Regions from separate parts of the Homo sapiens genome. Here region 1 is linked to region 2. Evidence: fine-mapped expression QTL. Tissue or cell type: lymphoblastoid cells. Region 2 holds a variant in brackets; the other region holds the start of a gene. All regions are shown on one strand. Distances are from middle to middle. Region 1 holds the start of ZNF329 (zinc finger protein 329). Region 2 overlaps LOC124904784 (a long non-coding RNA gene).

What was found. PIP is the estimated chance that this variant, and not a neighbour inherited with it, causes the effect.
Region 1: ZNF329 starts here. The variant in region 2 is the best candidate, but not a certain one, in a credible set for the expression of ZNF329 in lymphoblastoid cells (TwinsUK, PIP 0.55).

Annotation. Positions count from the first base shown.
Region 1 is chr19:58,148,383-58,152,651 of GRCh38, reverse strand. It overlaps ZNF329 (zinc finger protein 329), which reads left to right and starts at 1,863. Exons shown (of 4, transcript NM_024620.4): 1 at 1,863-1,900. RefSeq lists an enhancer at 1,727-1,786.
Region 2 is chr19:58,168,783-58,173,051 of GRCh38, reverse strand. The region is part of intron 1 of LOC124904784 (a long non-coding RNA gene); the gene reads right to left. Among named protein-coding and RNA genes, the nearest start is that of ZNF274, 12 kb to the left of the region's middle. The variant G/AG (reference allele first, on the strand shown) is at 1,766.

The sequences.
Region 1 (4,269 bases), 20 kb after region 2:
TCCTGACCTCAAGTGATCCACCTGCCTCGGCCTCCCAAAGTGCTGGGATTACAGTTGTGAGCCACCGCGTCCGGTCTCCGACTGTTCTTTTAACCAGATACTGTTGGACTTTTCTCCATATGATCTTTAAGTTGTTTTATTCTGTGAGCTGGGGGCGGGGGGAGTCTTTGAATTGGAATTGCTATACTTTTGTTTAGTAGTTTTGTGAAGATTTTTTTTTTTTTTTTGAGACCGAGTACTAGGATTGCAGGCATGAGCCACTGTGCCCAGCCAATTTTTATATTTTTAGAGATGGGGTTTCACCATGTTGGCCAGGCTCATCTTGAACTCCTGACCTCAGGTGATCCCCCCAGCCCGGCTTCCCAAAGAGTTGGAATTACAGGCATGAGCCACTGTGCCTGGTCTGATACGGCCTTCATGGAGAAATTAAAAAAATACTTTCCATTCAGGAATAATATGTCAGTGTGTTCTGAACTTAACTTCAGGTCTGTTAATGAGGTTTTTGTATTTTCTTCATGAAGATCCTTTATTGCTTTTGCTAATTGATTTCCAAGTTGCTCCAACCATCACTATTGTGAGTGACAATTTAATCACTATTATGGCTTAGAATTTTTTTTCTAATTTTCATTTCAAAATTGTGAAGTATTTCAACCTGCGGAGAGGTTCGGAGAGTAATAGAATAATCTATAAATAATAAAGATGACACCCATGTATCATCGAGATTTTACCTGTGTTAACATGTAGTCAGATTTTCAGGTTTTGATTTGTTTTTTCCTATCAAGCATCACAGGTGTAACTGAGGTCTCCTTTGTCTCCTCCCCAACTCTTTCCCCTCAGTTGCCACTTTCTTGAGGTTGGACAATCTATCTGGTCCATGTTATTGTTACTTTACTACTTATGTATCAATCTCTGTATAACATATAGATTTTGTGTCTTTTATTTCCAGGTAAGTTGTATCATGTGGATAAGTGCACAGTTTACTTTTCGAACTGTTTTTGGAGAACTGTCTATCTTGTATATAAGTTAGTCCTTTTTTTTTTTTTTTTTTTTGAGACGAAGTCTCCCTCTTGTCCCCCAGGCTGGAGTGTGATGGTACGATCTCAGCTCACTGCAACCTCCGCCTCCCAGGTTCAAGTGATTCTCTTGCCTCAGCCTCCCGAGGAGCTGGGATTACAGGCGCCTGCCACCACGCCTAGCTAATTTTTGTATTTTTAGTGGAGACGGGGTTTCACCATGTTGGCCAGGCTGGTCTCAAACTCCTGACCTTAGGTGAGCCCAGTCCGTTTGTTTTAACCACCCCCTATTGCTCCGTTGCACATACCACAGTTTCTCTCTTCCCTGTCAGTAAATATTTAGGCTTCCCCATGCTAAAGTTTAAGAGAACCACTGAAAGAATGAAAATGTGTAGTTTTCATTTTCAACCGGCTATTGTTACTACAGAGGAAAGTTACTGGCTTTGTTTACATTTCTTAGATCTAGTCATTTTAACAAATTAGGCCTCCCAAAATGCTGGGATTACAGGCGTGAGCCACGCACCCAGTAAATAATTATATTGCCAATGAATAATGAGTGTACTTATTCTGAATTTTAACATTATTATCTCAAAAAAAGATTATAGATAAAGAAATATTTTAGGAAATTATGCAGTAAATAAAAGGAAGGCTCTATAACAAAAGAATGATAGCATCGGGTTAAAAATCAGAGGAGACCATAGGAGAAAGTAAATGCCTGCGCGTCCGCCCCGAGGCAAGTCCACGCCAGGGTAATGAATAACCCGGTACCCGCGGCCGCCCCAGCGTTGGGCGGGGGAAGCTCGGGGACTCCGCGCACGCGCACATCCTTGTCCCGGCAGCCGCGCAAGCGCAATCGCCCGGAACATGGCTGCCGCCGGCCGCCAACCGTAAGTGCCGACGCATCCCTGAGCCCTGCGCTGCCTCCGTTTCCTGCGGAGGGAAGTCTTGGCGGGTGGAGGTCCGCCGGGTCCTTGTGGGGCGGCGAGGGGCGCGTCCGCGGGTGGGTTTCACCTGGGTGGTGGGCATGTCGGGCCCGCTAGGGCGAGGGTCTGGCCAGGGGCGTAGTTCTCCTGGTGGGTGGGGACGCTCCGTGGCGATTGGGGTCACTCCTCTGAGGACGAGGTCGCTCCGGGGCTGGTCTGGACGCCCCCGCTCTTTCCTTAGCGTCACCCGTGAGTTCCGCGCTCGCATCTCTAGCCCGCCCTCCCATAGAGACTGTTTTGCCACGCCTGCTGGGTGTCCTGGTCCGTCTCCGGGGGTAACCCCCGAGTCTGCAGCTTTTCTGTCAGGTGTGAGGGGCAGTGTAGGCTTGGGTCGGCCTCCGGCTGAATTGGCGGCCGTGAGCCAGTGGGCTGAGCCGCTTCCCCTTGAGTCTCGAAGGTGTTAGATCACCTGTGTGTTTTTCCATTTGATATTTGCAAAATCATGTTTTACTGCAATTCTCAGTGAGGGCCGCATTTTTGCACGTGTTTAGTGACCATTTTGCTGTCTTTTCCCTTGGTTTAGTGGCATATTTCCTTTGTGCAGTCTTCCAGTCTCAATATTTTATGACATAAAATGTTGGTTTAGATAGAGAAGCTGAAAGACTTGTGCAGTGAACGACCCGGTTAACGTCTGCTGAACTTACTGTATCCCTTATCTTTCCTTCTGTCCATCCTTTCAGCCATTCATTAATCCACCTATTTTTGGAAACATTTCAAAGTAAGTTGCAGATATCACAACACTTCTCCCTCAAACACCTCACTATGCTTACCATGAATTAGAGTTCAGTAGTGCTTTTTTAAATTTTTTGAGCCAAAATTGACTTTCAGTGAAATGCACAGATATTCCCTGTACCATTGATGAATTTTGACAAATGCAACCTAAACCTTTATTAAAATTACCATCAGCCTGAAAAGGTCCTTTATTTTTTGCCAAGTTAAAAAATTTGGCTATAGGAACTTGGGCTTGTTGAAGTACGTTTTGAATACCCAGTTTTTGTCTGTTTTTTCTTTTTTCCCACAGCAAGTGACTTTCCTCCATTCTACTGCTTGTTTACCTCTCTCTTCACCCAACTTTTCATTTTGAAAAGTTCCGCATTTGCATAGAAGTTGCAGGAATAGTTTAACACTTCTAAAACCATCCAGATTCTAAAATTATTAACACTTTTTGCCACATTAGCTTTATCTTTATCTTCTCCCTGCCTGAGACACATGCATAGGTGTTACCAGAAAGGGGGTCCCGAGCTATAACCCAACAGAGGGTTCTTATATCTTGGGAAAGAAAATTCAGGGCGAGTCCATAGAGTAAAGTGAAAGCAAGCTTATTAAGAAAGTAAAGGAATAAAAAAATGGCTACTCCATAGATAGAGCAGCCCCAAGAACTGCTGGTCGCCCATTTTTATGGTTATTTCTTGATTATATGCTAAACAAGGGGTGGATTATTCATGCCTACCATTTTTAGGCCATATAGGGTAACTTCCTGATGTTTCCATGACATTTGTAAACTGTCATGGTGCTAGTGGGAGCAGGACCAGAGGTCACTCTCGTTGCCATCTTGGTTTTGGTGGGTTTTAGCCACCTTTACTGCAAGCTGTTTTATCAACAAGGTCTTTATGACCTGTATCTTGTGCAAATCTCCTGTGTTATCCTATGACCTAGAATGCCTTAACTGTCTGGAAATGCAGCCCAGTAGGTTTCAGCCTTATTTTACCCAGTCCCCATTTAAGATGGAGGTTTGCTTTGGTTCAAACGCCTCTGACATAGGGTTTTCTTTTTATATTTTACACACACTTGTACACACAGCAGGTGTTGCAGAGGCAGGTGTGATACAGACATATATTTACATACACTTAGTTTTTTTGGCTGAGTTACTGGAAGTATGTTATAGATATCATACCTCACTCTGAAATACTTCAGCCAGGATCTCATAAGAAAAGTAACGTTCTTATTTTTTAATTTTGTATTTTTTATAGAGATGAGATCTCACTATGTTGCCCAGACTGTTCTTGAACTCCTGGTCTTAAGCAGTCCTCCTGCCTTGGCCTCCCAAAGTGGTGGGATTACAGGTGTGAGCCACCACACCCAGCCAAAAAGAACATTTGAACATTTAAACAAAACTAGTGTTATTATCACACCCAAGTATACTTTTTTTTTTTCAAAAAACTAATTGTTTTTTATTTGTAATTTTTTTTTCCTGCCAATCTGAACCTGGAAAAGAAGAAACAGGGAAATTTTTTACCTTCCTCTCTTTTTTTTTTTTTTTTTTTAATTGATCA
Region 2 (4,269 bases):
GAGAGTGTGTTTGGCTGAAAAATGTCCCCCAAAGATGTCAGGCCTGAATTCTTGGAACCTATGAATGTTGCGTTATGTAGAGACAGGGGCTGCATATGTATTTAAAGATCTTGAGAGGGGAGATGATCCTGGATTGTGCATGTAATCACATGTATCTTTACAAGAGGGAGGCAGGGACAGATGTGACCACACATAGGCAGAAAAGGAGAAGGTGATGTGACCGTGGAGGCAGAGACTGGAGCTGTGCAGTCACAAGTCAAAACATGCCAGCAGGCCGGGCGCAGTGGCTCATGCTTGTAATCCCAGCACTTTGGGAGGCCGAGGCAGGCAGATCACCTGAAGCCAGGAGTTTGAGACCAGCCTGGCCAACATGATGAAACCCCGTCTCTACTAAAAATACAAAAGTTGGCTGGGCACAGTGGCTCATGCCTGTAATCCCAGCACTTTGGGAGGCTGAGGCGGGTGGATCACAAGGTCAGAAGTTCAAGACTAGCCTGGCCAAGATAGTGAAAACCCGTCTCTACTAAAAATACAAAAGTTAGCCAGGCATGGTGGCAGGCGCCTGTAATCCCAGCTACTCAGGAGGCTGAGGCAGGGAATTGCTTGAACCTGGGAGGCGGAGGTTGCAGTGAGCCAAAATCACACCACTGCACTCCAGCCTGGGTGACAGAGTAAGACTCCCTCTCAAAAAAATAAAAAAATAAAATAAAAATAGGCCGGGCGGGGTACCTCACGCTTGTAATCCCAACACTTTGGGAGGCCAAGGGGGGGTGGATCACGAGGTCAGGAGTTTGAGACCAGCCTGGCCAATATGATGAAACCCTGTCTCTACTAAAAATTTAAAAATTAACTGGACGTGGTGTTGCACGCCTGTAACCCCAGTTACTGGGGAGGCTGAGGCAGGAGACTGGCTTGAACTCAGGAGGCAGAGGTTGTAGTGAGCTGAGACGTGCTACTGCACTCCAGCCTGGGTGATAGAGCAAGACTCTGTCTCAAAAAATAAAAAAATAATAAAATTAAATTAAAAATAAAAATACAAAAATTACCTGGATGTGGTGACATGCGCATGTCATGCCAGCTAGTCGGGAGGCTAAGGCAGGAGAATCGCTTGAACCCGGGAGGGGGAGATTACAGTGAGCCAAGATCACACCACTGCACTCCAGCCTGGGCAACAGAGTAAGGCTCCGTCTCAAAAAAAAAAAAAAAAAAGCCAGCAGCCACCATAAGCTGGAAGAGGCAAGGAATGAATTCTCTCCTGGAGCCTCCAAGGCTTGAATTTGGCCCAGGTATGGATTTCATGCTTCCGGCCTCCAGAAATGAGAGAATCTATTTGTCTTACTTTAATATTTCTCTTATCTCTTGTTTTAAGACACTGAGTTTGTAGTAATTTGTTACAGTGGTGATAGGAAACTAATACAGAAAAAAAAAGCCCAGTCTCTTGAAAGAAGTTGAGCCATATTGGCCGGGCGTGGTGGCTCACACCTGTAATCCCAGCACTTTGGGAGGCTGAGGCGGGTGGATCACCTAAGGTCAGAAGTTCAAGACCAGCCTAGTCAACATGGTGAAACCCCCGTCTCTACTAAATATACAAAAATTAGCCGGGCGTGGTGGTGGGCGCCTGTAATCCCAGCTACTCGGGAGGCTGAGACAGGAGAATCGCTTGAACCCGGGAGGCAGAGGTTGCAGTGAGCCGAGATCGCGACATTGTACTCCAGCCAGGGCAACAAGAGTGAAACTTCATTCCAAAAAAAAAAAAAAAAAAAAA[G/AG]AAGAAGCTGAGCCATAAGGCTGTCAGTGGGAGCCAATTTAAGAATAATCAATACTGCAGACCACTGAGGGGAAGGGTGGAAGGAAATTGAGTATTTGGAGACATTGTTGAGCTGCTGGCTCATACTGATCCTGAAGCTATTCTGGCTAACTCTCCAGGCATGTGAGTAAACATTATCTGATGACGTGGGTTAGCTGCTACCAGCCCAGCAAGCATCCTGACTCATAGCACAGCAGTGGCAGAGGCATTTGTTTTGTCTTTGTTTGGAGACTGTTTAAAATGGCAGCATAAGTCCTTTGGATCCCATCATCCCATCAGCTTGCATATAGGTCTTCTTTCCTTCTTTCTTTCCTTCTTTCTCTCTTTCCTTCTTTCTCTCCTTCTCTCTTCCCTCCTCTCTTCCCTCTATTCTTCCCTTCTTCCTTTCCTTTCCCTTCTCTCCCCTCCCCTCCCGTCTCCTCTCCTTTCCTTTCCTTCCTTAGATGGACTCTCACTCTGTCGCCAGGCTGGAGTGCAGTGGCGCAATATCGGTTCACTGCAACCTCTGCCTCCTGGGTTCAAGTGATTCTCCTGCCTTAGCCTCCCGAGTACCTGGGACTTCAGATGCTCGCCTCCATGCCCAGCTGATTTTTGTATTTTTAGTAGAGACGAGGTTTCACCATGTTAGTCAGGATGGTCTCCATCTCTTGATCTCACGATCCGCCCACCTTGGACTCCCAAAGTGCTGGGATTACAGGCGTGAGCCACTGTGCCCGGCCAGCTTGCATATAGTTTTAAAACTTTTATTTATTTCTTTCTTTATTTATTTTTGAGACAGAGTCTCACTCTGTCGCCCAGGCTGGAGTGCAGTGGCGCAATCTCGACTCACTGCAACCTCCACCTCCTGGATTCAAGCAATTCTCCTGCCTCAGCCTCCCAAGTAGCTGGGACTACAGGCGTGCACCGTCTCACCTGGCTAATTTTTGTATTTTTTTAGTAGAGACGGGGTTTCACCATGTTGGCCAGGATGGTCTTGATCTCCTGACTTCGTGATCCGCCCACCTCGGCCTCCCAAAGTGCTGAGATTACAAGCACGAGTCACCACGCCCGGCCGTTTTAAAACTTTTAAAATTAAAGTTTAGTCCAGTCACGGTGGCTCACACCTGTAATCCCAGTACTTTGGGAGGTCAAGGCATTAGGATCACTTGAGATCAGGAGTTCAAGACTAGCCTGGCCAACATGGTGAAACTCTGTCTCTACTAAAAATACAAAAACTAGCCAGGTGTGGTGGTGCTTGCTTGTAATCCCAGCTCCTCAGGTGGTTGAGGCAGGAGAATCACTTAAACCCAGGAGGCAGAGGCTGGAGTGAGCAGAGATCACACAACTGCACTCCAGCCTGGGCAACAGAGTGAGACTGTTGTCTCAAAAAATTAATTAATTAAATTAAAGTTTATATGTAACCTTTATATACATAAACTATATAAGCTTTAAACATATATATACACATAAACATATATATAGGCATAAAGTCCTCAACTTCACAACTTGATGAGTTTTTTTATATATGTCTAAATATATAAATATATAATGTCCATATATAAAAATCCATCACACAGGTCAACAGAAAATATATTTCCAAAACCCTGTACCACTTCCTGGTTAATATCTCCCAGAGTTAACCACTATCCTGATTATCATCATAAGTTTTTTTTCTGTCCTCAAACTTCATATAAATGGAATCATATAGTCTATGGTTTTCTGTGTCAACATAATGTGTTAGAGATTCATCCAAGTTGCTGCATGTATCAGTAGTTAATGTTTGGTAAATTGCTGAGTAGTATTCCACTATGGATGTACCACATTTTGTTTATACATTTTATTATTGATGGACTGCTGGGCTGTATCCAGTTTTGGCCCCTTATGACTAATGCTTCTATGAGTGTCCTTTTAGATGTCTTTTGGGGACATGGCTCATACTTCCATTGTAAGAAATTACTATTATGTTCTCTTGGGCAGTTTTTCCAGAAAGAATACAAATTTTGAATGCTAACAGGTCTGAAAATGCTTACTCTCTCCTCATATGTGTGAATGATATATTTGCTGAGCATCAAATCCTGAAATCAGAGTCTTTGTGTTTCTGGAATCTTCACTTATCTTCTAGTGTCCAGGGTTTCAGAAGAGAAACCAATGCTGCTTATACATACCCTGTGCTCTTTGTAAGGGATTTGCAATGAAACTTGTGAAGTTTGCACTAGTTTTGGAGTATGGGTACTTCACCAGACTATGATGTCTTTTTAACCCTGCCAAGACATTGGACATGCCCTTAGAAATGTGAAGATACGTACAACTCATTTTTTTTATTTTTTTGAGATGGAGTTTTGCTCTTGTCACCCAGGCTGGAGTGCAATGGCACAACCTTGGCTCACTGCAACCTCTACCTCCCGGGATCAACTGATTCTCCTGCCTTAGCCTCCCAAGTAGCTGGGATTACAGGCATGTGCCACCACACTCAGCTAATTTTTCTA